2 separate regions of the Homo sapiens genome follow, and region 2 is linked to region 1. Evidence: fine-mapped QTL for protein levels in blood plasma. A gene starts in region 1. The other region holds a variant in brackets. All regions are shown on one strand. Distances are between the middles of the regions. Region 1 holds the start of REG3A (regenerating family member 3 alpha). Region 2 has its middle 91 kb from the start of REG3A.

What was found. A credible set is the group of variants that fine-mapping cannot tell apart. PIP is the chance, under the fine-mapping model, that this variant and not a neighbour inherited with it causes the effect. Protein levels are from antibody-based Olink assays in UK Biobank. Linkage for the fine-mapping came from a reference panel and not from the study's own genotypes, which makes the PIPs less certain.
Region 2: its variant is the best candidate, but not a certain one, in a credible set for the plasma level of the REG3A protein (UK Biobank, PIP 0.86).

What each region holds. Positions count from the first base shown.
Region 1 is chr2:79,158,207-79,161,122 of GRCh38, reverse strand. It overlaps REG3A (regenerating family member 3 alpha), which reads left to right and starts at 1,370. Exons shown (of 6, transcript NM_002580.3): 1 at 1,370-1,395; 2 at 1,684-1,793; 3 at 2,354-2,472; 4 at 2,660-2,797. The coding sequence starts at 1,718.
Region 2 is chr2:79,249,694-79,252,609 of GRCh38, reverse strand. It overlaps a transcript of CTNNA2 not described here. Among named protein-coding and RNA genes, the nearest start is that of REG3A, 91 kb to the right of the region's middle. The variant C/T (reference allele first, on the strand shown) is at 1,541.

The DNA.
Region 1 (2,916 bases):
GGGTCTGTAGAAATTCCCAGCCTAACTTTTTCCTGGACTGGCCAAACTGAACCTGAACCAGTGTATGGGCAATGTAGTATGCTTGTCAGAGGCACCAAACTGCTAACTCAAAAATAAACATGACTAAAAGAACTTCTCCCAGTATACCCATATGAAGCTGACCATTTGCCCAGTAAGAATGCAATGAAAAGGGCTTTTAATGTACAGCCAAATGGCAGTCCAGCAAGGAAGCTCATGAGCAACCTACAAGTAGTGAGCATTTTGATGTAATAGAGACTTACATGCAATTCAGAATTATGTTTACAACATCACAAAACAAAAATTTAGAGATAGGCTCTCACTCTGTTGCCTAAGCTGGAGTGCAGTGGGATGATCATAACTTACTGCAGCCTTGAACTCCTGGGTTCAACTGAAGGTCCTCCTACCTCAGCCTGCTGAGTAGCTAGGACCACAAGCACACACCACCGCAACTGGCTTAAATTAAAATATAAATTGTAGAGATAGGGTCTTAATGTGTTGCCCAGGCTGCTCTTGAACTCCTTGCTTCAGGTGATCCTCCCACCTCAGCCTCTCAAAGTGCTGGGATTATAGACCTGAGCCACAGCACCTGGCCAACTGACCTATGATTTTACACAATGGCTGCTCTTCCCTTCTTTAACTATTATTCATTCTTCTTTGATCCTCATTATTTGACTGTAGTCCTTCTTATGTCTTGTTTTCCTTCATTACCTCTTATTCTATCACATTGCCATTGTCATTCTCCACTGGGGAAGCTCTTTCTTGCTGAAGACTGGAAAGACAAGTCCATTCACCTGATTTTCTGTAAGATTGTGGCTCATGTATTGACTTGTCAGACAATTCTGAAGTTTCATCAAAATTAGCTATCATGCTTGCATAATGGCCCTGAACCCTCACTCCTACTCTTAGCTTCAGTACCATCTATGTCCTCAACTGTCCATGATACTTATAATTCCCGTAAATCTTCACTTAACACCTAACATTTATTTAATCTTACTAGGCAAGGTAATAAGAAATACATAGGTTTGCCTCCAGAAGTGGGTTCTTAAGAAACCCACCAGAGGAACTCCTCTTTCAGATGTCCACATTAGAAGATTTCATATCACATTTGGTGCCACAGGCCTTTGACAAGGAGGATGCAGAGGAAAAAGCAAACTTCACCTCTTCCTAGGGAAAGTGTTGGCCTGCCAACAGGAAAGAGGCAACATCTGGGAAAATCCCCAGTCTTTGCCAGGAAGAGTCCATGCCAACCCCACCCCATGACCCCTGTCCTGCCTACTCATTGTCACTCTTCACTCCAATGTCCCTCCCCCAGATCCTCTTATAAAATCCCACTCTTTCCTGACCAGACAAACCATACCATATCCCACCAGAGAGGTAAGTGGGAGCTGAGAGAAGATGAGACCCAGGGAGGAGCTACTGCACATGACACAGGAGAATACATGGGAGGGTCCCTTCCTCAGGGAGCACAGGAACTCTGAGACTCAGCAAGGGTGTCCTGGGAGGGCTCGGGGATGGGAGAGTACACAGATTCACAACTCATTCAGAACTGTAGAAGATGATGGATGTGACCAAGATCACTTTAGTCCTAGGGGACTAGAGAAGGAAAATGACATGAGGCAGTGGGGTATCTGTGTGTTCTCCCACTGACCACGCTTTCTTTAGTGACTCCTGATTGCCTCCTCAAGTCGCAGACACTATGCTGCCTCCCATGGCCCTGCCCAGTGTATCTTGGATGCTGCTTTCCTGCCTCATGCTGCTGTCTCAGGTTCAAGGTGAGATTGCTTTGCCTCTAGCACTGGGTTCCCTATGAATCCTCAGAGCTAACAAGAGGAGGAAGGCTCCTGTGTGTCATGTGAGGTAATGACGTGGTGTCTAATGAACCTGCCTGCAGTTCTTGCATCATCTCTCCTTCCTTCAGGTTAACTTGCAGTGGGAGGCTCCATGGTGGTCCACTAACAGTGGAATGAGATGGCTTCCATTTAGTCAGTGGACTCTAATATACACTGGTGGGAAAGTGGACTCTAATATACACTGGAGGGTCAGTAATGAGATGTGGGGAGGGACAATGATTGGAGGACCCAATGTAGAGACAGCCCAGAGTGAGGAGAGTATTGAATGGTTGAATAAGGGGAAAGGGTAATAAGAGACTGGATGGTGCTCCATTTACTACGGCTATTTTGAGATAAAGAATTTCTGAAAACATAAGGGAAGATGAAGGGGTGTCAGGAATGTGGTCTTCCTCCCCAAGGACATTCCTAGGTATTCCCCAAGGTCATCTCCCACCCCAAGCCCCACTCTTCATTTTACCCTCCCCCCTCTTCTTCCACCTCAGGTGAAGAACCCCAGAGGGAACTGCCCTCTGCACGGATCCGCTGTCCCAAAGGCTCCAAGGCCTATGGCTCCCACTGCTATGCCTTGTTTTTGTCACCAAAATCCTGGACAGATGCAGATGTGAGTGGTTAGATGTGGTGTTGGAGGTGACCGGTCTCAGGGGGAGGAGGGTCTCCATTCAGGAGAGTTCCTTGGGAATGAGGATGAACACGTTTATCTTTCACACAGTCCTCCTCCCACCTACCTTTGCCCTGCCCTCCCTCAGCAGGTCTCAGGCTCCCTCTCATTCTCTTTGTTGCCCTCAAAGCTGGCCTGCCAGAAGCGGCCCTCTGGAAACCTGGTGTCTGTGCTCAGTGGGGCTGAGGGATCCTTCGTGTCCTCCCTGGTGAAGAGCATTGGTAACAGCTACTCATACGTCTGGATTGGGCTCCATGACCCCACACAGGTGCCAGTATATCCTCCCCTCTCTGTTACCTCTCAAGGTGCTATTGTTGCCCAGGCCCACTCCCTGTCCCCTGTGCCTGCCCAGGAAGTACTTCAGGGAGCACTGGAGCTCAGATTCTG
Region 2 (2,916 bases), 91 kb before region 1:
TGATTAAAAAAACTTACAAATGAAGCTCGAATTACTCAGGAAATGGTCCTGGGAAATTGGCTAAGTGAAGGGAAAAATCAAGTTATACCTAAATCAAGTTATACCTATACATTGTACATTAAAAATAATTCTAGTTATATCAACAATTTTAATATTAAAAGTTAAAACCATATAGAAAAACCACAAAACCAGAGGTGAAGATTTTACCAATCTCTGAATGGGAAAAAGATCCAAGCATAAAATTATTAAACAAATTAACAAAATAAATGAAATATTTTATTACAGAGAAACTATACCTACTGTATGAAAAAAAAAAATCTCTTCCAAACATGCTCTTTTAACTTGAGGGACTGTTTCAAACTTGATCAGAAGTCAAGCAGTCTTTTTTGTAAACACACTCTTTATCCCTCAAGATGTTCCCATTTTTACCTCTATATTCTTGCAGAGCTGATAAGCTGAATGCATTTCAGGCATAAAGATAAGGTGTAAAGGGTCAGTCTGGGTAGAGAAGAATGTAAAGATCTGATCTCCACCTGTGCAGAGCCCCTTTCTGGTGTGTTTGATCTGTGTTGAATTCTTGATATCTATTCTCTGGCCTCTGACAGCTGACCAACTGAGAGCTGAGACTGTGTATTATTCCTGCCCCAGACCACTTCCATCATATTTTCCATATTTCTGGTGTACGCCGCAATCAGTGGCGGTTTAGTATATATTGCTGTATAACAAATTATCCTCAAACTCAATAGTCTCAAACAACAAATTTTATTTCTGTGGATCAGAAAGCAGGTCATGGCTTAGGTGGGTCCACTGGCTCAGTGTCTCTTACAGACTGCCACCAGGGTGTCAGCCAGGGCTGCAGTCATGTCCAGGCCCAAGTTGGGGAGGACCCAGTTCAAAGCTGACTCATGTGGTTGTTGGTAGGACTATAGGCAGACCTCAGGTCTTCATCGGTTCTTTACCATGTGGGCCTCTGAATAAGATTGATCACAACATGACGGCTGGCTTCCCCGAGAGTGAGGACTCCAAATGAGAGAGAAAGCAAAAGAGGTCCCTATGTTCTTTTATAACCTAATCTTGGAAGTGACATTCCATCACTCTGCTGTACACTATTGGTTAGAAGTGAGTTACTGAATCCAGCCCATACTTAAAGGGAAAGGTTCACACATGGGTGTCAGTACCAGGAGGTGAGGATGAGTAGGGTCCTCTTAGAGGCTGACAATCACAATAGCTGTGGTCCTCTGAGGGCTCTGCCCCATGCTGTTCCTGGTTCATGGTGCATTCCACAGCTCCAGGCAAGTAGGGAGACCCTGCAGCAGAAACAGCAGGGTTTTTTGAATCATGGATCAGTAACAGAGCATAAACTGGAAGTGGCTGCAGCCTGCTTCGGAAGCGCAGGTACAATGCAATGAGGTAAAATCTCAACACTCCTCTTGCTGACCACATCCCAAAAATGGGCATCTGGGGCCTTGGTGGCATTTCAGAGGAGCAGAGCTGAGCTGAACTGAACTGTACTGTGGTTTGTTCATGATAAAACAGATGG[C/T]ATCAAACAGAACCTGTAGGAAGTGCCAGATTTTAACCATTACTACGGAGACATAGTACTTTGATCTCAGAGTAAATCATTTTTTTCCCAAATAAACTCGTTTGCATTTAGAAAATGAGCCTGGGGTAGTTATTTTTATTTTCGTAAACCCAGAGGAGCAACGTCTACACACATTGGACCTGAAGCCAAAAATTCAAATGTCTTTGGGACCAAGCGAGGGTGAGTTGAGCCAAGTGAGAGAGAAAACAGAGCAGAAGAAACCATGAGGATGCAGAGAGGCAGACCTAAATAAGGCATTCAAATGTAATACAAAGCAAAACACAGTGCATACCAAATAAAATATGGCTGTGAGCTGAATATTGTCTAAAGAGTGCCAAAATGTGAGTCCACAGGCCTAGCAGGAAGAATAAAATTCATAAACCAGATATGTAGCAGATATCCCAGAGACTCCTCAACAGGGCTTTGAGATAGGGCCATTCTTACGCAAATCCAGAAAAGCTACCTGTCTCGCTCAAGGGTAAAGGGAGTTGTGGCTAGAACTGAAGCCTCCTACCTCTGAGTCTAGGACTCTCTGCATAAAAACTTAAAATATTTATATTATTTCTGATCCTGGCACCTCAGCTGATACAACCCTTTCCAAGTAAACCCAGTAATTACAGAGGTGGAGCAGTATAGTTATGAGTCTGCAAGGGACCAAGTGGCTTCCCAGGCAAGTGTGCATACAGGATCCTCACTGTGAATATGCTGGAGCCCAACATAGAGACAGATCTTAGGAAAAGGCTTGCTTTTTGAGGGTTTCTGTAGACCTAAGTCTTGTTGAACAATAGAAATGCCTAAATAGGCTACAAACAGGCCATAATTCCCTACTAAATGACTTACAAGGGCTCAGGGTGGAAGCATACCTAATCTTCATTGCAAAGGGTGACATAGAGGCTAAAACAGACAATCCTGGGCAGTGTGTGGCAGTACTAGGCAGCTTTTCTAACCATCAAGGCTGATACCAGTGCAGTCAATGGGATGTAGCATGCTCAGGAGGAATTTTCATCATTAGCCTTGTTGATTATGGAACACAGCAGTAGCAAATGTAGCTGATACAAAAACTCAGGAGTCAGGCAGATGCAGTTCAAAGTGTTAATTTCTTATCAGAAGACCCAGGATGGGGAAAAAGCACCAATTTTAAAAACAAAGTAATGGCAAAAGTTAGTGGGGTAGCAGGGACCCATACTATTAGGAGAAGGTGAATGTGAGCTCCTAATCTAAAGAGGGGACTAAACATCTAAGTGGGAAAGCTGTTGGAAACTATGCAAGAAGAAGGTCTAATTCTCTGTATGGAATAAATAAAAAGAGAGTAAAATCAGGTTAAAAAGGGATGCAAA